Linked DNA regions of Homo sapiens. The protein of the gene in region 5 purifies or fractionates together with the protein of the main gene of each other region. This does not show direct contact. Each region holds a gene or a part of one and is shown on either strand. Other genes may lie near its edges. The genes, in order: PPIL4, DSG1, ALDH18A1, P4HA1, ARHGEF40 and P4HA2.

Evidence for each region.
Region 1: the proteins of ARHGEF40 (region 5) and PPIL4 purify together in Homo sapiens (affinity purification with mass spectrometry; one large-scale study listed by BioGRID and IntAct). This does not show direct contact.
Region 2: the proteins of ARHGEF40 (region 5) and DSG1 purify together in Homo sapiens (affinity purification with mass spectrometry; one large-scale study listed by BioGRID and IntAct). This does not show direct contact.
Region 3: the proteins of ARHGEF40 (region 5) and ALDH18A1 purify together in Homo sapiens (affinity purification with mass spectrometry; one large-scale study listed by BioGRID and IntAct). This does not show direct contact.
Region 4: the proteins of ARHGEF40 (region 5) and P4HA1 purify together in Homo sapiens (affinity purification with mass spectrometry; one large-scale study listed by BioGRID and IntAct). This does not show direct contact.
Region 6: the proteins of ARHGEF40 (region 5) and P4HA2 purify together in Homo sapiens (co-immunoprecipitation; one large-scale study listed by IntAct). This does not show direct contact.

The regions. Positions count from the first base shown.
Region 1 is NC_000006.12:149,503,995-149,508,043, reverse strand, and holds the end of PPIL4 (peptidyl-prolyl cis-trans isomerase-like 4), read left to right. Parts: intron 1-2,339; coding exon 2,340-2,591; 3' UTR 2,592-3,549; downstream 3,550-4,049. UniProt on the Homo sapiens protein: PPIases accelerate the folding of proteins. It catalyzes the cis-trans isomerization of proline imidic peptide bonds in oligopeptides.
Region 2 is NC_000018.10:31,352,660-31,356,159, forward strand, and holds part of DSG1 (desmoglein-1 preproprotein), read left to right. Parts: intron 1-1,240; exon of another isoform or gene 1,241-1,277; intron 1,278-1,637; coding exon 1,638-2,687; 3' UTR 2,688-3,500. UniProt on the Homo sapiens protein: Component of intercellular desmosome junctions. Involved in the interaction of plaque proteins and intermediate filaments mediating cell-cell adhesion.
Region 3 is NC_000010.11:95,650,212-95,653,711, forward strand, and holds part of ALDH18A1 (delta-1-pyrroline-5-carboxylate synthase), read right to left. Parts: intron 3,195-3,500; 5' UTR 3,167-3,194; coding exon 3,079-3,166; intron 1-3,078. UniProt on the Homo sapiens protein: Bifunctional enzyme that converts glutamate to glutamate 5-semialdehyde, an intermediate in the biosynthesis of proline, ornithine and arginine.
Region 4 is NC_000010.11:73,044,867-73,048,366, forward strand, and holds part of P4HA1 (prolyl 4-hydroxylase subunit alpha-1 isoform 2 precursor), read right to left. Parts: intron 2,236-3,500; coding exon 2,059-2,235; intron 186-2,058; coding exon 115-185; intron 1-114. UniProt on the Homo sapiens protein: Catalyzes the post-translational formation of 4-hydroxyproline in -Xaa-Pro-Gly- sequences in collagens and other proteins.
Region 5 is NC_000014.9:21,080,304-21,083,803, reverse strand, and holds part of ARHGEF40 (rho guanine nucleotide exchange factor 40), read right to left. Parts: intron 3,145-3,500; coding exon 3,022-3,144; intron 2,932-3,021; coding exon 2,788-2,931; intron 2,485-2,787; coding exon of another isoform or gene 2,350-2,484; exon of another isoform or gene 2,307-2,349; intron 2,296-2,306; coding exon 1,685-2,295; intron 1,561-1,684; coding exon 1,326-1,560; intron 974-1,325; coding exon 887-973; intron 1-886. UniProt on the Homo sapiens protein: May act as a guanine nucleotide exchange factor (GEF).
Region 6 is NC_000005.10:132,189,854-132,193,353, reverse strand, and holds the end of P4HA2 (prolyl 4-hydroxylase subunit alpha-2 isoform 2 precursor), read left to right. Parts: intron 1-273; coding exon 274-344; 3' UTR 345-3,207; downstream 3,208-3,500. UniProt on the Homo sapiens protein: Catalyzes the post-translational formation of 4-hydroxyproline in -Xaa-Pro-Gly- sequences in collagens and other proteins.

The DNA.
Region 1 (4,049 bases), on a different chromosome or scaffold from region 5:
CATGGCTTCATTCAGCCACTTTAACTTTTCCCCTTCATACATACAGGGCTCATTTTTCCTTGCTTTTCAGTTTTCACTTACACTACTTTCATTAGCCTTCTTGCAGCCCATTCAGACCCAAGCTCACTTACCCTTTGAGGCTCATCTGAAATCCTAACTTCTCCATGAAACCTTCTCTAATTATTCTAACCTTAAGAGTACTTGTTTGACACATCTCCTAAATGTCAAAGACTATTTGAACCCAGATCTACCTGACTTCAAAGCTTGTGTAGCTTTGAAAACTACTCCCGAGTAGGAGTGATTTTAAAGTTTCAGTCCAATTCAAATATTCAGCTTCCTCAAATTTTTAAAAGAATGAAGTGCTACATAATCTTTTATCTCTTCTATTTTAAATACTCAAAGCACTTAAGTGCCCATTTGTATAATAACATACTGAGGATTTTATAAATTTATACATCAGCCAGCAGTCTCGGCATTTTAAAAGTTTGTCTCAACCAATACAGAAATAAGTACAAGATGTACAGATATAATAGTATATGAATATTTCTATTTTGTATATGTTATAGGAAGCACAAAAATTCTTTTATCTCAGAATGTCATATTTTACTAGAAAATTGATGGCAAAAGGCTAAACCAAAATGCCTACTCATTTTTTCTACCTCAGGGACTCTTATAATATGACAAGAACTATTGGGATTGTGTGGAAAATCACAAATCAGTTTATAATACTGTATTACACAGTGTGATTATTACTATAACAATCCTGTTACATCTGTTTTCACACACTGTCAAACTCAAGGTGTACAGTATCTAGACAGTATATGGAATAACTAATAATTTGCTTAAAACCCAGTCCTTAACCATGGGTATTCATCACTCTGAATTTTAAGCCTTGACATTTATGTCTGCTACAGTGGTATCTGGTGATAGAGTTGAGACCCTTGGGAGTTTAGTCCTTAGAATTTTCCTTTCCTTTGGGCAGTCTTAAGAAAGTTAAATTTTACAAAGTATCTCTTGAAAGAGCATTGGCTGTGGTCTAAGAGTAGAATTAAATGTAGCAATTTTATTATCTTTGGGGCAAAGGATTCTACCAGTGTTTAAAAACTCATTTTAAAGAAATATAATAATTTTGACATAAGCCTAATCAGCTGAGTGAGGTGGCTCATGCCTGTAATCCCAGTACTTTGGGAGGCCGAGGTGGGAGGGGATCACTTGAACCCAGGAGTTTGAGACCACCCTGGGCAACATGGGGAAACCCCGTCTCTACAAAAAAATACAAAAATTAGCCAGGTGTGATGGCACATGCCTGTGGTCTCAGCTACTTAGGAGACTGAGGTGGGAAGGATCGGTTGAGCCTGGGAGGTTGAAGCTACAGTGAGCCATGATCGTGCCACTGCATTCCTGCCTGGGAGACAGCAAGACCTTGTCTCAAAAAAAATTCTCCTCTCTAACTTCTGTCTTTCTAAACATGGAAGATGTATTTGAACATCTAGAGAGGAGCTGTTATAAAATAAAACACTTTAAAAATTAATTGCTCAGACCCAAGTATACATTATCCATTTTCTTTTTTCGAGATGGAGTTTCGCTCTTGTTGCCCAGGCTGGAGTGCAGTGGGGCAATCTTGGCTCACCGCAACCTCTGCCTCCCAGGTTCAAGCAATTCTCCTGCCTCAGCCTCCCGAGTAGCTGGGATTACAGGCATGCGTCCCCACACCTGGCTAATTTTGTATTTTTAGTAGAGTTTCTCCATGTTGGTCAGGCTGGTCTTGAACTCCTGACCTCAGGTGATCCATCCACCTCAACCTCCCAAAGTGCTGGGATTACAGACGTGAGCCACCGCATCCAGCCTCCATTTTCTTATTTAAGACTTACTGACTTGTCTAAGATCTCTTCCTGCTAAGTTATTTCAATGATATCTTCTTATAGGATTCTTATGGGAATTTTAGTAGTTTCATTGCAGATCAATAATGGGACCACGTTTTGGGGGAGTGAAGGGTGGGGAGCTGGGAATAAGACTATACATAATCAGAATTTTTGATTTTGCAGATTGCTCTAGAGACATGTTCTGATTTCAGTTGAGCTATTTCAGTTCCATATTTTTGAAGCTGATCCTTCGTTTCAGCCAAAATAGTAGATACAAATCAATGACGTTGTTAAACCTTTTTCTGAATTATTTTATTGCTTTGTAATTTACAAGATTCTTGACATTAGTGGTAGTGTTCACATTTAAGCTGTTATAACAGCCTTCTAATGGTAGACTTTTCTAAGTTTTATTAATTGAAAATGCCCACAAAATGATTATTTTACTGATTCACTTGTAATTCCCCCTTCCTTTGACAGGATATCTATAGAGAAATGGGGTTTGGTCACTATGAAGAAGAAGAAAGCTGTTGGGAGAAACAAAAGAGTGAAAAGAGAGACCGAACTCAGAACCGAAGTCGTAGCCGATCTCGAGAGAGGGATGGCCATTATAGTAATAGTCATAAATCAAAATACCAAACAGATCTTTATGAAAGAGAAAGGAGTAAAAAGAGAGACCGAAGCAGAAGTCCAAAGAAGTCCAAAGATAAAGAAAAATCTAAGTATAGATGAAAGATGAAGAGGCAGAATTGAGAGGCTAACATATTTACTCTTGTCTAACTTAAGAGTGCCAGGAAAGCAGATGCTTAGATTTTGTGTCAAAGCTTGTTATTTTTTTCATACTAGGATTATGGTCTTTAGATTAATACTGATTATATAGAGCACGGAAAGATAAAGAATTGAACATTTTCTTTGTATACTTTTTTACACTAATTTTATTGTTATACATAAATGGTAGTCTTCATTTTTGAAGTCTTACATTTTCACTCTTTTTTTAATGAAGTATTTCATACTACAAAAATACATAAACGTATATATAAAGGGATAATAAATGTAAATATCTGTGTACTCATCAGCCAGCTTAAGATACAGATGTTGTCGACATTTTAGAAGTTCCCTAAGGCCCTCTCCCTCTCAAATAATTATTTGGAATTTTGTGTTTGTCATTTGTCTATTATAGTTTTACAACATACGTATGTATCTGTAAGTGAAATGTTAATTTTGTATGTTTCTGAATTTTATATAAATGGCAAAATGTTTACTTCTGTGACTTTCTTTCATTTTTATTGCTATATAGTATTATATAAATATACTACAACTTATTCATTCTTGATGGACATTTGAGTTTTGTTTATTTGTTTTTGCTGTTGAAACAATGCTGCTGTGAACATTGTATCTAGCAGTTATATTGCTTGATATATTGATAAAATAATGCCAAATTTGTGTTCTGAAGTGACTGTACTAGTTTATACCTCTCTTGGCACTGTGAGTTACCTTTGTTTCATAGCATCTCCAACACTTAAGTTCAGACTTAAAAATTTGCCAACCTAGTGGATGTTAAGTGGTATCTACCTGTGATTTCCAGCAAGATTACTGTTATCTCTGCTCTTCCATGTGTAAGATGTCATTTTTTTCCTGGCTGCTTTTAAGGTTTTCTGTCACTGGTTGTAAGAAGTTTGATTATGATGTGCTTGCTGTAGTTTTTTTTTCACGTTTCTGCTGCTGCAGCTATTTTACCTGTGGGTTTATGGTTTTCATAGAATTTGGAAATTGGGGGGCATTTTTTCTTCTGTTATGGTTTTCTCTCTGCTCCTCTCATGCTTCTCCTGGGGCTCTGATGACTTGGATGTACGTTAGGCCCCTCAGAATTTTCTCCCAGTGTGCTGATTCTGTGCAGCTTTTTAAAAAGCCTTTTTCTCTCTGTGTTTCATGTTGGGTACTTTCCAGTGCTGTGTCCTCATTGTTTATTAATCTTTCTGTCTAAAGTATCTAATTTCCTTTTAATCGTATCCAGGTATTTTTCACCTCCGACATATTTTTAGTCTTTAGAATTTCTGTCTGGGTCTTTATCTCCCATGTGTCTCCTTCACATGCTCATGCCTTCCTCTATTTTTTTTTTTTTCAACATCTGGAGTGTATTGATAATAGCTCTTTCAGTGTGCTTGCCCATTCTGTCATCTGCATCATTTC
Region 2 (3,500 bases), on a different chromosome or scaffold from region 5:
TGCTCATTTCTTTTTATTCTTTTTTCTCTAAACTTCCCTTCTCGCTTCATTTCATTCATTTCATCTTCCATTGCTGATACCCTTTCTTCCGGTTGATCACATCAGCTCCTGAGGCTTCTGCATTCTTCACGTAGTTCTCGAGCCTTGGTTTTCAGCTCCATCAGCTCCTTTAAGCACTTCTCTGTATTGGTTATTCTTGTTATACATTCTTCTAAATTTTTTTCAAAGTTTTCAACTTCTTTGCCTTTGGTTTGAATGTCCTCCCATAGCTCAGAGTAATTTGATCGTCTGAAGCCTTCTTCTCTCAGCTTGTCAAAGTCATTCTCCATCCAGCTTTGTTCCGTTGCTGGTGAGGAACTGCGTTCCTTTGGAGGAGGAGAGGTGCTCTGCTTTTTAGAGTTTCCAGTTTTTCTGTTCTGTTTTTTCCCCATCTTTGTGGTTTTATCTACTTTTGGTCTTTGATGATGGTGATGTACAGATGGGTTTTTGGTGTGGATGTCCTTTCTGTTTGTTAGTTTTCCTTCTAACAGAGAGGACCCTCAGCTGCAGGTCTGTTGGAGTACCCTGCCGTGTGAGGTGTCAGTGTGCCCCTGCTGGGGGGTGCCTCCCAGTTAGGCTGCTCGGGGGTCAGGGGTCAGGGACCCACTTGAGGAGGCAGTCTGCCCGTTCTCAGTTCTCCAGCTGCGTGCTGGGAGAACCACTGCTCTCTTCAAAGCTGTCAGACAGGGACATTTAAGTCTGCAGAGGTTACTGCTGTCTTTTTGTTTGTCTGTGCCCTGCCCCCAGAGGTGGAGCCTACAGAGGCAGGCAGGCCTCCTTGAGCTGTGGTGGGCTCCACCCAGTTCGAGCTTCCTGTCTGCTTTGTTTACCTAATCAAGCCTGGGCAATGGCGGGCGCCCCTCCCCCAGCCTCACTGCCGCTTTGCAGTTTGATCTCAGACTGCTGTGCTAGCAATCAGCGAGACTCCGTGGGCGTAGGACCCTCCGAGCCAGGTGCAGGATATAATCTCGTGGTGCGCCGTTTTTTAAGCCCGTCGGAAAAGCGCAGTATTCGGGTGGGAGTGACCCGATTTTCCAGGTGCCGTCCGTCACCCCTTTCTTTGACTCAGAAAGGGAACTCCCTGACCCCTTGCGCTTCCCAAGTGAGGCAATGCCTCGCCCTGCTTCGGCTCGCGCACAGTGGACGCACCCACTGACCTGCACCCACTGTCTGGCACTCCCTAGTGAGATGAACCCGGTACCTCAGATGGAAATGCAGAAATCACCCGTCTTCTGCGTCGCTCACGCTGGGAGCTGTAGACCAGAGCTGTTCCTATTCGGCCATCTTGGCTCCTCCTCGAAACCAATTCATGTGATTTTTTTGTGTATGGTTTTATGTCCAAAGTACACAATTATAAATAAGTCCATCTAAGTAAATTTTTAAAATCATAGTATTAGAATTATACTTAAAATGATTTCTAACCAAATTATTTCAAATAATTATAAAATGATTTTTAGAGCATCTCTAGTATGTTAAAATCTTGTTTTATTTCATTCCTCTTTGGAAATGCTCTGGAAGAAAAACTAATGATAAAGGCTGTTCTATTATTGTTAAATATGCATTCATAATTTCATTTTCTCTTTCTCCTATAAATTCAGAAAGCATATGCTTACGCAGATGAAGATGAAGGACGCCCATCTAATGACTGTTTGCTCATATATGACATCGAAGGTGTAGGTTCCCCTGCTGGCTCTGTGGGTTGTTGTAGCTTCATTGGAGAAGACCTGGATGACAGCTTCTTGGATACCCTGGGACCTAAATTTAAGAAGTTGGCAGACATCAGCCTAGGAAAAGAATCATATCCAGACCTTGATCCTTCTTGGCCACCACAAAGCACTGAACCAGTTTGCCTTCCTCAGGAAACAGAGCCCGTTGTTAGTGGACACCCACCAATCTCCCCACATTTCGGCACTACCACAGTAATTTCTGAGAGCACCTATCCCTCGGGACCTGGTGTACTGCATCCTAAGCCTATTCTCGATCCTCTGGGCTATGGTAATGTCACTGTGACCGAGTCTTACACCACCTCTGACACTCTGAAGCCCTCTGTGCACGTTCACGATAACCGACCAGCATCAAACGTGGTAGTGACAGAGAGAGTGGTCGGCCCAATCTCTGGCGCTGATTTGCATGGAATGTTAGAGATGCCTGACTTGCGAGATGGGTCGAATGTTATAGTGACAGAAAGGGTAATAGCACCAAGCTCTAGTCTACCCACCTCTCTGACTATCCATCATCCTAGAGAGTCTTCAAATGTGGTAGTGACAGAAAGAGTAATCCAACCAACTTCCGGCATGATAGGTAGTCTGAGTATGCACCCCGAGTTAGCCAATGCCCACAATGTCATTGTGACAGAGAGGGTTGTTTCTGGTGCTGGCGTAACTGGAATTAGTGGCACCACTGGGATCAGCGGTGGCATAGGCAGCAGTGGCCTGGTTGGCACCAGCATGGGTGCTGGGAGCGGTGCCCTGAGTGGAGCTGGCATAAGTGGTGGTGGCATTGGCCTGAGCAGCTTGGGAGGGACAGCCAGCATTGGCCACATGAGGAGTTCCTCTGACCATCACTTTAACCAAACCATTGGGTCCGCCTCCCCTAGCACAGCTCGAAGTCGAATCACAAAGTATAGTACCGTGCAATATAGCAAGTAGTCAGGACCCCAGCTCACTTTTTCATAGTCATTGTGGTTTAGATCCAATTCCCACCACTAAAAAACCAACAATGTGATTTATAACGCACAACTTCGTGCTCAGGTCATCTAGGAGCAAGGTGAGAAATCACAATGAGAAAAATAAATGGAAACACCACTGCTAGGGGAGAGCTCTCCTTAGCATTCATAAACTTTTCTCTTATATTAGGACTAAGGAACTAAAACTTGAGGCAGAGTCTTCTTTGTGCCTGAGTGGCCTGTAGTCCATCTCCAGCATGTAACTGGCCTTACGATGGCAATTGGCATCATTCTCCTTGCTCTGTTTTGCTTTTCCATATAGCTCGAGCAAAATTCAAAAAGAACTAAATATGCAATATATGTTCATATCTATGGGAAAAATCTAAAATGTGTGCCAGATGCCCTGTTGGTTTCACAGATAACATAAATAAAAATTCAACCACAGATTTATACAAGGGTTAACCATTTTTTTTAAGTTTGACTACATAGTCAAGTCCACAAGCCATCAAGCACTCCTACCTTAATTATTGCACTAGAGAAAATAAATTCCAAATTAGGAAGTGTTTCCTAGGAGGAAAATTCCATTAGAGAGTGGCAATAGGATGAGGTTTCTTCAGGGTAAACTAGCAATGCCTGAGCCTGAACCTTAATGTGGGGCCTCAGTTAAATCTCCTGTGGAGTCAAGGATTCTTCTGATTCTAGTGTGTGTTTAGTGATAGATGTAGTCTTGACGAATATTGCTTACTGGTGAGGTTGAGGAATATCACACTCGTCTTTCCCTTTACCACTGTGGTTT
Region 3 (3,500 bases), on a different chromosome or scaffold from region 5:
ACAAAAGCTGATAAATTTGACGTCATCAAAAGAAAAACTTTTCCTATATGAAAGACCCTCTTAAGAGAATAAAATGACAAGCTATGAGACTGGGAGAAAACATTTGCAAACCACCTATCCAACAAAGGACTAATACCTGGAAGTGCTATGGTTTGGATATGGTTTGGCCCTTCCAAGTCTCAGGTTGAAATCTGATCCCCAGTGTTGGAGGTGGGGCCTGGTAGGAAGTGTTTGAATTACGGGGGCAGATCCCTGATGAACAGCCTGGTGCCAGTCTCAGAGGGAATGCATGAGTCCTCACTCTTAGTTCCCATGAGACATGGTTGTTAAAAAGAGCCTGGCCCTTTCTTTTCTCTCTCTTGCTTCCTCTCTGGCCATCTGATTTTGCACACAACAGCTCCCCTTCATCCTCTTCCAAGAGCAGAAGCAGCCTGAGGCATTCACCCAATGCAGTTTTTGGTGCCATGCTTTTTGTGCAGCCTGCAGAACCATGACAAATAAACCTCTTTTCTTTATACATTACCCAGCCTCAGATATTCCTTTATAGCAATAAAAATGGACTAAGACAGGAAGATATAGAGAATTCTCAAAATTCAATAGTTTAAAAAAAAAACAACTTTCCAATTCAAACTGAGCTGAAGGCCAGGTGTGGAGGCTCATGCCTATAATCCCAGGACTTTGGGAGGCTGAGGTGGGGGGATCACTTGAGGTCAGGAGTTTGACACCAGCCTGGCCAACATGGTAAAACCCTGTTTCTACTAAAAATACAAAAACTGGCTGGGCATGGTGGTGGGCACCTGTAATCCCAGCTACTCAGGAACTGAGGCAGGAGAATCGCTTGAACCCGGGAGGCAGAGGTTGCAGTGAGCTGAGATTGCGCCACTACACTCCAGCCTGGGTGACAGGGCAAGACTCCATCTCAAAAAACAAAAAAAAACAAAAAGAATGAGCTAAAGACATGAACTAACATTTCACTGAAGAGGATATAAACACATGAAAAGATGTTCAATATCATTAGCTATTAGGGAAAGGCACATTAAAGCCACAATGTGATTATCACTACATACCTATCAAAATGGCTAAAATAAAAAAGAGTGACCACATCAAATGACGGTAAAGATGCAGAGAAAGTGCATCACTCATACAGTGCTAGTAGGAATGTAAAATGGTACTGTCACTCTGCAAAGACAGTTTGACAGTTTCTTATAAAACTGTGTTAGGCCATTCTTGCATTGCTGTAAAGAAATACCTGAGGCTAGGTAATTTATAAAGAAAAGAGGTTTAACTGGCTCATAGTTCTGTGGGCTGTACAGGAAGCATGGTGCTGGCATCTGCTCAGCTTCTGGTGAGGCCTCAGGAAGCTTATAATCATGGCAGAAGGCAAAGGGGAAGCAGGCATCTCCAATGGCGAGAGAGGGAACAAGAAGAGAGAGTGAGGGGGTGGTGCCACACACTTAACCAGATCTTGTGAGAAGTCACTCACTATCTCAAGGACAGCACCAAGGCATGAGGGATTCACCCCCATGACTCAAACACCTCCCACAGGCCCCACCTCCAACACTGGGGATTACAATTCAATATGAGATTTGGTAGGGACATACATTCAAACTATGTAAAAAACTAAACATGTAGCTACAATCTGACCCAGCAACTACACTCTTAGGCATTTATCCCACAGAAATGAAAACTATGTTCACACAAAATCCTGTACATCAATGTTCATACCAGCCTTATTCATAACAGCCAAAAAATGAGAACAACCCAGATGTCCTTTAATGGGTGAATGGTTACACTAACTGTGATACACTCATAGCATTACATACTTCTCAGTAATAAAAAGGAACTAACTGATACACACAGCAACTTGAATGAATCTCCAGAGAATTATGCTGAAGAAAACAGAATTCCAAAAGGTTACATACTGGATAATTCCATTTATATAACATTTTTATAAGGACAAAATTATAAAAATGTAGACCAGATTAATGTTGGCCAGGGGTTAGTAATAGGGAAGAGGACAGTGGCTGTTAAAGAGAAATAAAAAATCCTGTGGTGATTGAAATGTTCTGTATCTTGATCGTATCAACGTCAATACCTTGGTTCAGATACTGGGTGAAATTGGGTAAAGGGTATAAGGGACCTTTTTGTACTATTTCTTAAAATTGCAAGTGAATTTATAATTAGCTCAAAATCTAAAACTTAATTACAAAAAAAGAGTAATGAACAAAAATAGCATGGGGCCGGGCACAGTGGCTAACGCCTGTAATCCCAACACTTTGGGAGGGAGGCCGAGGCGGGCAGATCACCTGAGGTCAGGAGTTCGAGACCAGCCTGGCCAACATGGCGAAACCCTATTTCTACTAAAAATACAAAATTAGCTGGGTATGGTGATGCACACCTGTAATCCCAGCTAACTGGGAGGCTGAGGCAGGAGAATCGCTTGAACCTGGGAAGCAGAGGTTGCAGTGAGCTGAGATTACACCACTGCACTCCAACCTGGGAGACAGAGTGAGACTCAAGAAAAAAAAAAAGCATGTAAAAATTTATTTGGGGGTCAACTTTATTGACACAAACACTGAGAACATTTCACCAGGAGACTACCTCTTTGCCTCCTTGCTATTTGGCAGAATTTTGTCCAATTCTGCCAAATTACATCTTTTTTTTCTCTCTCTCTCTTTTAAACCTTTTTTCTTGGCTGGGCACGATGGCTCACGCCTGTAATCCCAGCACTTTGGGAGGCCAAGGCAGGCAGATTGCTTGATCTCAAGAGTTCAAGACCAGCCTGGGCAACATGGCAAAATCGCATCTCGACAAAAAATAAAAAAGTTAGAGTCAGCGCGGTGGTGTGTGCCTGTAGTCCCAAGTACTTGGTGGGCTGAGGCAGGAGGATTGCTTGAGTCCAAGAGGTCTGGACTGCATGGAGCTATGTTTGTGCCACTGCACTCCAGCCTGTGTGACAAAATGAGACCCTGTCTCCAAACAAACAAACAAACATCTTTTTTCTCTTTGAAAACCTTGTTGAAACATACTTTGACTATCAAACGTCCCACATACTCATAAGTTTTCTATGGTACATACGAGATCTGAAGACGGTTGTACACTTGACCCAGGGCAGAAGATGTTGGTTGAAGGGCTGGAACCCACAGCGGTAAACTTGACTCAACATGCTGCGATGTGGTCACTAACCAAAGTATCTGCAGAATACATTTTTTAAAAAGTGAGTAATGAAAAATACTGGACAATTCATTTTATTTCCCTCTACTTCCCCTTACCCTCGGAGTAAAAATCTGACTCTCCTGCTCCAAACTCCTCTGTATTAGGGAAACTCCCACCTCCTCTATATTATAGAAAAGAGAGAAAAAGTAAGTGGCTCCTTTCTAGGCCTCAACCATCTTAGTTTTTATGTAAGCAAATAATAATGCAGAGTTAGGAATATTTTGAGACACAAAAAACACCTGCTCTTTTTGGTATCTTCCAAATTTAAAAAAAATCTTTCAGGT
Region 4 (3,500 bases), on a different chromosome or scaffold from region 5:
GTGGTGACTTGAGCTGGTGACTGAAAATGACCCACTTTCCTTAAATGAATAATTCCTGTAAGATGTATAAAACACTCATTAGAGGGCAAAATATGCAGCATACACATCTCTTACCTTTTGCTAATTCTGTAATGTACCGTCTCCAAGTCTCCTGTTATTGGGTTTGAAATGGTGGCTCGCCTCAGCTGTGAAGCCAACCATCAAAATAGTTGCATTACAAAACAAAAAACTGAATCACATTTACCCAACCAGTCAGAATTCCAGGGTTTTTACAAAGGAGGCTAAAAAGAGAAAATAACTCCATACACTTCCAGTCACCTTGTGCTGAGCCTTGAAAGCCAGTTAGTTTTTTAGGTTTTTGGGGTTTTTTTTTTTTCTTCAATTTTTTGTTTTGCATAGATGGAGGACATACAAACAAAAGAGATTGGAAATTAAATTTCTTTCAATGGTGAAAGGACATGACAGTAAGAAAAAGAGACATATCTAAAATTTGAAGTCTAATTTACAGTTAAAATAGCCATCTGGGGGTGGGGAGAGAAGGGGAAAAAAAGAAGAATGCCTATTTGCAATTAATGATCCATTCCAAAACCTTTGACTTTAATTTTTTTTAGTGATGGAACTGTTTGCACAGGTTAATGTTTAAAATTCATTTTAAGGTCAATCTTTTGTCCCTTCAAGATAGCCACTCTCATTAACATATACAGTGAAATAATCTTGGACTGAGAACAAAGGCAGAGGAAAAGAGCTCATAAATGTTAAAAACAGCAAGAAAGAGGTGACCGCCTAGATAATAATTTCAATTTTTTTTAATGGAACGATGATTCTGAGGTTGTGAGAGCATGAAATTTTATTGCCATTAAATTTATTGATCAAAAACAATCCAAATTGAGGAATCTCCAGAATATAACTTGATCTCCAAGTTGAAATGAATTAATTACCTTGGATGGCACCAATAATATATATTAATGTTAGACCAGTCTTTTGCATTTATAATGTAATCTTTGGCCAAAAAAAAAAAAAACCACCAATTTGGAGAAGCAGAAAAACTCTAAAAGAAATTCTAACTTCATTTTGTAGTATAGATATCCAGATAATTCAAACCTTTGATATAATAAGGGTCAACAAACTATGGCCACAGACCAAATTCAGCCTGCTACCTGCCACTGGAAATAAAATTTTACTGTAATATAGCCACACTCTTTCATTTACATATTTTCTTTGGCTGCTTTTGCACTATAATGGCAGAACTAAATAGTCATGACAGAGATCATATGGCCTCCAAAGCCTAAAAAATATCTAATATTGACCTTTATGGAAAAAATCTGCCAACTCCTGTGTAAGACAGCAAAGCATGCCTAGAATTTATTCAACAATCTCTTTATGAAAGTGATGGCAGCTTGTATTTTACTATCAAGAAGACCAAATATGTTTTAAGAACAAGCTGATGGGGGAAAAGGCAAGAGCATAAAGGGTAGTCTTTTCCACATTCTCACTAAAGAGTTTTTATGCTCAACACTAAGCTTATAGATTGGGTTTACGTTAGATTCTTTTTCTTTTTAAGATAAATTCTGTGGGTTAAAGTCAGAAAACTATCACCATTTCAAATTAACATAATACTTGTGCCCAATTATATCTTTTTATAATAGTAACAATGTGCCTAAAAGGGAATAAAAATACTTCCACGGTATTCTTTCAGTAAAAATACAGAAGTGAAAAAGCTGGGCTTTGAGTAGCCTCTGAGATTAAAAGACTCCAAAATACAGAGAAAAGTTTATCAGGAAGACAGTGAAACACAAATTTGTTAATGGTGAATAAAAATCTCACAATAATTTTCATAATTCAGTGCTTAAAACCCAGTTAAGGGTACATTACTTGTGTTGATAACAAATGGAAAAACTGGCATAAACACAGCATCATTAGTAACTCCATTATGCTGAGGCAAAATATCTTTAAAAAATCTGTGGCATTATTCGTATATCAATTATCCTATTTTTTTACAAAGAAAAATTGATACAAAGGTACAGTAAATTGAGGAGAAAGAAAGAAAACATTATTTACCCTTGGTTTTGCTAGGTCTTTGACGATTTCAATTTCTGCATCAGAAATAATATCATGGAAGCGAATAATACGAGGCTTGTCCCATTCATCCTCCTGTTTAGCTGGAGCCAGAATAAATTTAGGATTACGGTTTCCATCATGGTAGCGGCAAAAGAGTTTTTTCTGTCTCCGAGGGGTCTAAACATAAAGTTAAGAATATGATGAATATATTACAGTAATAATACTTTTAATATCTATTCCTATGCAGATAAGAGACAATAATCATGCTTGCATATACAGAGTATCTCTGGAAAAACATACAAAAGAAGCAGTACTCTGCAAATATTTTGCCTCAAACAGGATGTTCAGAATTTTAAATACAGTATTAATGATTATTTTCTGGGTGAGAGAGGCGAGGTCTTAAATAAGGAGAAAGGTAGTGTATCTCTTTTAACCCTTCACTCATCAAAATAAAGTTCAAATGTTTAAATATGAAAAAAAAGCCATGTTTATGAAAATATTAAATGAATGCCTGGCATTGCTCTAAATGGCACAAAGTAACTGGAAAGCACCCAGAGACAAAAAGTTTCTAGAAGAAAAAAAAAACTAGGTTTTCCTAAATACCTCACAGTTAAATGCTTGTGGCAAAAAAAAAAAAAAAAAAAAAGGAATTTTTTTAAGGGCAAAATAAAAAATGGATAGCTCTGAAAAAGAAAAAATAAGTTATTAAACAAAGATCCCAGATGCTTTTATTAGGCAGTATAAAAATAGAGCAGTCAACAAAACAAATTCCCTTCAATCATCTATGTATTATATTAATAAGTTATTTTGTTGCCTACTTCTCTTAATTAAACAAGTATGTCAGGCCTGGCATGGTGGCTCATGCCTATAACCCCAGCACTTTGGGATGCTGAGGTAGGAGGATCACTTGAGCCCAAGGAGACCAAGATCAGCCTAGGTCACACAGCGAAATCTCGTCTCTACAAAAAATTTAAAAAATTAGCCGGACATGAGGGCACTTGCCTGTAGTCCCACATACTTGAGGGGCTGAAATGGGAGGACTGCTTAAGCCCAGGAGGTAGAGGTTGCAGTGAGCCATGATCATGCCACTACACTCCAGCCTGGGTGACAGAGCAAGAAGCTGTCTCAAAAAAACAAAACAAAACAAAAACAAGTATGTCACATAAGCAGGAATATGAGTAGTCTGTTTCAATTATTATACTAATAGTATACTAAAACAAATAATGATTCATGTTTATTCTCCATGCACTTTACCTAGAGTCAAATCCAAGGCTTTAATTTTTAGTAAGTCTTTTATATAATGATGAGATGAATGTAGCTATTCTGAGAAAAAGAATTTTTTGTTTTTGTTTTTGTTTAGACAAAGTCTTGCTCTGTTACCCAGGCTGCACTGCAATGCCTTGATCTCGGCTCACTGCAGCCTCTGCCTCCTGGGTTCAAGC
Region 5 (3,500 bases):
AGGGGTGGAGCCTCTGGGGGCCAAGCTCAGGGGTTGGGGGGTAGGTGGGTGATACCCTAGGCTTTTGGGTATAGATGAAGCCCAGATGCTCCCTAAAGTAAGGCAAAACCATTCTCCCTGGAAAGAAAGCAGGTGGGGGCCTGCAGGCCAGCAATCACTGTCTATATCTTGAAGGGAAATGGAAGAAGAATCAAAATAGTAATCCCCTTTACTTTCTGGCTTTGAACTTTTCTTTTCTTTTCTTCTTTTCCCCTGAGATGGAGTCTTGCTCTGTCGCCCAGGCTGGAGTGCAGTGGCACAATCTCGGCTCACTGCAAGCTCCGCCTCCCAGGTTCACGCCATTCTTCTGCCTCAGCCTCCCGAGTAGCTGGGACTACAGGTGCCCGCCACCACGCCTGGCTAATTTTTTTTTTTTTTTTGTATTTCTAGTAGAGATGGGGTTTCACTATATTGGCCAGATAGTCTCAATCTCCTGACCTCGTGATCCACCCGCCTCGGCCTCCCAAAGTGCTGGGATTACAGGTGTGAGTCACCGCGCCCGGCCACTGCCTTTGAACTTTTAGTCACTTGTACGTCTTTTGATGTGAGCTCTTCTGATGCTTAGATCCTCCCTGTGAGCTGGCTATAGTGACTATTGCCCCCATTTACCAGCTGTGGAAATAGAGGCCCAGAGGAAACAGGAGTCCTGCCCAGTCCCTCAGGTGGACTGGATAAGAACCTGGCCTCACCAGTCCGGTGCTTGTCCCACCCTCGGCAATTCTAGGAGATGATTGGTAGGTGATGTTCCTGGGCATATCCAGTTTTTTGCCCTGAGGGATTTGTTGGGTGGGTTTTTAGGTCTTTCTGGCCTCTCTACTTTTCTCCTGAAGGTTGGAGAAAAAGTTACCTTGCTTAAGGGACTGAGCGCAGCCAGACCATTCTCCAGTTTGTGTCGGTGCTTCACGTACTGTGCATAAAGGCTGAACTGGTCCCCCTGTGCCAGTAAAGAACAGATAAGGAGTCCCCGGTGAGGCCGCTGCAGACAAGCCTCTCTCTTCCCCCTCTCTATCCTCTCTGTAGCCCAAATGAGGGATGGGTCACCAGGGAGCACTCAGCCTACCAGGGAGGGAAGGGCTCCCTGTGGAGAGAGCATAGTCCAGGCAGCTCTTGAGAGCAGGGCGCAGAGGCTGAGTAGAGGCAGAAGTGCCCACAGAACAGGGCTGGGCCCCAAGGTCATGGACCACACATGGGAGGAGAGGGCCGTGGGTACTGAGAAAGAGGGACAGATGGATGAGGCTGGAACAGAGAAGGGAGAGCACTTGGAAGAAGTTGAGGGGATCACTCACGTGGCGAAGGAAGCAGGCCCCAATGCGTAGGGGGTGGGTGGCGCAGCCCTGAAGCTCCCGCAGAAAGTGTGTCCGGTGGAAGCTGCGAAGCCTTTCCCGGGCACTCAGGGCAGCAGCCCAGGTGCCCCGAAGTTCAGGCGTCAGCTCAGGCCCAGGGGGTGGCACTGGCTCACTCAAGGTGGCCACGTAATCTTGTTCACAGGCAATCAGCTCAGACACCAGCCGCTGCTGGGCACTGCAGGCACAATAGGAGTGGCAGAGGAGGTGTGGGAGGGAGCCAGTACCCCCAACAATGTCATCTTCTTTTCCTACTGGGCAGTTGGCTCCGCCTCTTAGCACCAGTTGGGCTGGGATCTCACCTGATGCTTCGCTTGCGCTCCATCCGGGGGGTGCCTACTCCCCAGGGTCCGTCTGGCCCCCTAGCCCGGCCCAGCAGCACGTGTTCCCGTGGTGAGCACGTCCTGTCTACCACCTCAGTGCTGGTGACCTCCAGGCCTCGGATCAGCACAGCTCTTGGGGGCCTGCCCTCTGCTTCTGGAGCCAGCTCAGGGCCCTCTTCCTCATAGTCCTCTCCACATGGGGCCAGGGAGCAATGGGATGGGGCTGGCCGTGGCCCAGGGCTGCTGGGGAGCAGCAAGGAGCTGAGGCTGGGCGAGGGGCTGCGGGGCCCCCACTGGGCCCCTCCACTGCTGGCACCGTCTGCCCGCCGTCGTCGGTAGCCCCGTGGGCTCGCCTCCTCTCCCACGTGTTGCTGGATCCTCCTCTCTAGCTCTTGGCAGCGGGCCTGGCAGCGGCCCCATTCTCGCAGGGCTGCTGGGCTGCCCAGGTCCAGGGCCAGGGCCCGCATCTCCTGGAAGGTGCCGGCACTGGGCTCTGGGGCCCGCCGCAGGGCCAGTGCAGCCAGCACAGCCTCCCGACCCGGCCCAGCTCCTGCCAGCCGAGCAAAGCCCTCATCCACCCATTCATGTGCCTACGAAGTCAAAGGGGTTGGGGATGGGAGAGAAAGGGTAAGGGCCTGTGTTGCTCACGAAGGATGCCCAGTGACAGCCCTTGTCCTCTTGCCTGTGGCCTCCCAATGCCCGTCACTCTCCTGTTTTCTCACTGTTCCACCATCACTGCCTAACCATGTCACTCGGAGTTGGTATGGAGATGGAAGAGCCTATATAAAAGAATAACCGGTACTCATACGACATTTATGAGTGGCAGGCTCTGTGCTAAGGGCTTTTATGTATTGCCTCGTGTAATCCCCACAGCAGCCCTGTGAGGTAGATCTATGGAGGCACAGTCAGGTTTAGTATCTTGCCCCATGCCATTCAGCAAGGAGGTGGCAGAGCTAAGAGCAAAAACCTAGGAGATGGGCCCCTCAGCCTCCACTTTTAACAACTTGATTAGCCTCTCCAGGCAGAAAGGAAGTGAATAAATGGAAATGGGGGGGCACAGAAGGAAAAGGCTCTGCATGCACCTGCTGGAAGAAGCGCTGTAGCCGCAGGGCCCGATGGAGGCCACTCTCAACCTGCTCCAGCCGCTGTTCAAAGATATCCAGCACCTTCTGGGAGGTGGCATTCTCCTCCAGAGCCAGGGCCTCCCGTGCCTGGGCCAGGCGCTCCTGGAGAAGGGAGGCTGCGCTCAGACCTGGTCCTCACTCCTAGGTAGTCTCCCCCTGCCTCCTCTCACCTGCCCTCCAGCCCCTTCTCACCTGGACCTCAGCGCTGAAAGCACGGAATCGCAGCTCTGTCTCCTGCAGGGCAGACAAGGTGTCCCCAGGCATAGCAAAGCTTGCCAGCTGCTCCTCCCCTGGGCCCGAGAGCCACTGCAACACCTGAGGCAGATGGGGTGGGAGGGCAGGGGGTCATGGAGTGGAAAGGCAAGGAAGGGCTGAGATCCAGCATCAGCCCCACCACCCCAATCTATAGAACTTTGAGTGAACTATTGCATCTCATCTGCAATGTGGGAATGACAACAGTGAATGGTAATAGTTTCCACAAGGGTCAGATGAGAAACCGAGTAAGAAATCTTTGGTAAGGCAGATGAGAGGGAAGCTGGGCTGATGGGAAGCACTGAGGGAGTGGGTCAAAGTTCCAGGGCTATGTCCGAGGGTGAAGTACATCAAACTGGGGTGAACCAAAAGCAGGATGAGGGTCATAGGGATGACTGACGGCCTTCACCAAGCCTTGG
Region 6 (3,500 bases), on a different chromosome or scaffold from region 5:
TGGGCATGAAAGGGCATGATTAGATGCCCTTGGGTGCTATTCCCATGGCAACCTGCACACATGTATCTTGTCCCACTGGCAGAATTTCATACAATTATCTGTTTACATGTGTCTTCCTTACCAATTCTTCAGCAAATTGAGGCCTGAGATCATGTCTTGTCTTATTTGTGTCTGATTCCAGGGCACAGTGCAGGGGGTCATCATGAAGGAGTCATTCATTCAGGCTACTAAACTGACCAATAGGATTGTAACATGCTTGCTTTCTTTTCACAGTCTCCAATAAGTGGTTCCATGAACGAGGACAGGAGTTCTTGAGACCTTGTGGATCAACAGAAGTTGACTGACATCCTTTTCTGTCCTTCCCCTTCCTGGTCCTTCAGCCCATGTCAACGTGACAGACACCTTTGTATGTTCCTTTGTATGTTCCTATCAGGCTGATTTTTGGAGAAATGAATGTTTGTCTGGAGCAGAGGGAGACCATACTAGGGCGACTCCTGTGTGACTGAAGTCCCAGCCCTTCCATTCAGCCTGTGCCATCCCTGGCCCCAAGGCTAGGATCAAAGTGGCTGCAGCAGAGTTAGCTGTCTAGCGCCTAGCAAGGTGCCTTTGTACCTCAGGTGTTTTAGGTGTGAGATGTTTCAGTGAACCAAAGTTCTGATACCTTGTTTACATGTTTGTTTTTATGGCATTTCTATCTATTGTGGCTTTACCAAAAAATAAAATGTCCCTACCAGAAGCCTTAAAGAGCCTTACTTGGAGTATTTTTAAGACTGGAAGCTTTTACCAGGTTCATCATTTCCTATGCATCACCTTCATGCAGGCAGAGTCTGGATAATGAATGCTTTAGCAGCAAAAAAGCATCTTGGGTCTTGGATTTCAGACCTGGTTTCAACACTTGTGTTCCCTCTAAGTGTCAGTGTCCTTTTCTGGAAAGTAGGGTAAATAGTTTCTCTTTGTCTCCCAGAGAACATAGCACATGTGTTCATGATTGTAATGCTGTTATAATGTGTACTTCATTTTTAAATTTTGAGATAAGAATTGTTCATGATACACAGATGTATACTTAAAAAAATATGAAGGTGAGCAGGAGCACCTGTGTCAACACCAAGTTAGAAAAGAGAACGTTTTCAAGTCAGTACCTCAGGAGCCCCTTGGGAACCCCTCCTAGATCACATCTCCTTCACTGCCCCCAGCACTTTGGAGATAAATCATTGTCTCATGATGTGTGGTACTCATTCCTTTGCTTGTCTTTATAGTTTTACCATCTATGATTAGATCCCTAAATAAGTAGTTATTCTGTTTTCCCTGATTTTGAACTTTTACTAATAGAATGAGAGTAAATATTTTTGGGTATGTGGCTTCTTTTGTTCAACATTGTTTTAAGATTCATCCGTGTTGCTTGTGTAGCTGTAATTTGTTTTAATCTTTATAGTACATTCAGTTTTGTTAATGCTTATTGTAGGACTGTACCATAATACAGGCAGCATGCTGCTGATAAACACTGGAATTGATTTCAGTCTTTGTATATTGTGAATAATGCTGTGATAAACATTTTTATACATGATTCCTGGTGCACATATAAACACATATTTCTGTAGGATATATATCTAGGAGTGGAAATGTGGAGTCTTAATGGTGTTCCAACTTTACTAAATAATGTATTCCAAGGTGGTTATACACATTCTCACCAGGAGTAAATGAGAGTTATTACCCCAATCTTTTCCAGTATTTAGTATTTTCATACTTTTGAATTTTAGCTAGCTTGGTACATGTTACGGACTAAATGTTTGTGTCCCCCCACCAGATTCATATGTTGAAATCTTTTTTTTTTTTTTTTTTTTTGAGACGGAGTCTCGCTCTGTCGCCCAGGCTGGAGTGCAGTGGCGGGATCTCGGCTCACTGCAAGCTCCGCCTCCCGGGTTCACGCCATTCTCCTGCCTCAGCCTCCCAAGTAGCTGGGACTACAGGCGCCCGCCACTACGCCCGGCTAATTTTTTGTATTTTTAGTAGAGACGGGGTTTCACCGTTTTAGCCGGGATGGTCTCGATCTCCTGACCTCGTGATCCGCCCGCCTCGGCCTCCCAAAGTGCTGGGATTACAGGCGTGAGCCACCGCGCCCGGCCCATATGTTGAAATCTTAACCCCCAATGTGATGATATTAGGATGCGGAGCCCTTGGGAGGTCGTAAGCATGGAGCCCACGTGAGTGGGATTAGTGCCCTTATGAAGAGATCCCAGCCCTCTTTCTGCCATGCGAACACACAGCAAGAAGATGCCTGTCTATGAACCAGGGGGCCCTTACCAGAAACAAACCTACTAGCATCTTGATCTCGGACTTTCCAGTTCCCATAACCATGAGAAATAAATGTTTTTAATTCAATGTATGGTATTTTATTATAGCAGCTCTACCTAAGACAGTACATGTATAGTGTCTATTTGAACATTACTGATAATGTTGAACAACTTTTCATGTTTATTAGTTATTAGGTTTCTTCAAGTGTTCTTATTCATACAAATTTTAAAATATGTACACAAGTTCTTTGTTATATATTTTGCAAATATCTTCTGTGGCTTGTCTTTTCACTATTTTAGTTCTGTCTTTTGATAAACAGGAGCTTTTAATTTTTATGTCAAATCTATCAAGCTTTTTCTTTTTGATTTATGTTTTTTATGTCTTATTTGAGAAATCCTTCTATACCCCAAGATCATGAGGATGTTTCCTGTGTTCTCTTCTGAAAGCTATATAGTCTTTGTCATTTAGGTTTATCTTTATACGTGGTATGAAGTGTAAAGTTCTACTTTTAATTTTTTGCATATTTTATTAGGATAGGATGGGCTTTTTCTGTAGTAATAATCCTTAAATCTCAGGGGCTTAATATATAAAATTGTCTCATGCAAAAAACCACTGGGTCTAGGGCAATTGCTATCTACTGCCGTCTAATCTCCCTCTAGTGGCTTCCATTGGTAGACCCTAACAGGAAGCCAGCTGATAAGGGAATCTGGGAAATGTAGTTTACAGAGTGGCAGCTACAGTAGAACAGTAGAGACTACAAGGATGAGCTTGCAGCTGAGAATAGAAACGTGACTGGCACACTAGGTGGTTTGTTTGTAGGTTTTTTCTTTTCCTGTTTGAGACTTTTTTGGATTCTTGAATTTGTACAATGGTATCCTTAATCAATTGTGGAAAATTAAATGATTTTTTCTTTCAGCATTGTCTGTTTCTTCTGTAACTGATTAAATGTAAGTTGGATCATATCATGATATTATCTCTTAATCTGTCTTTCATATTTTTATATATATGCTATATTTGGGGAGAACTTTATAGCTGTTTTGTACAAAGTTCACTAATTCTGTCTTCTATCAAGTGCATACAGGAGTCTGTTTAAGGACTTTAAAGATGTAATTCTTTGTTTTCTGGCTTATACCATTTCTGTTGAAAAGTCGCTATCTGGTCCTTTGTTGTTCCTTTGAAGGTGATTTTGCCTTCACCTGGCTGCTTTA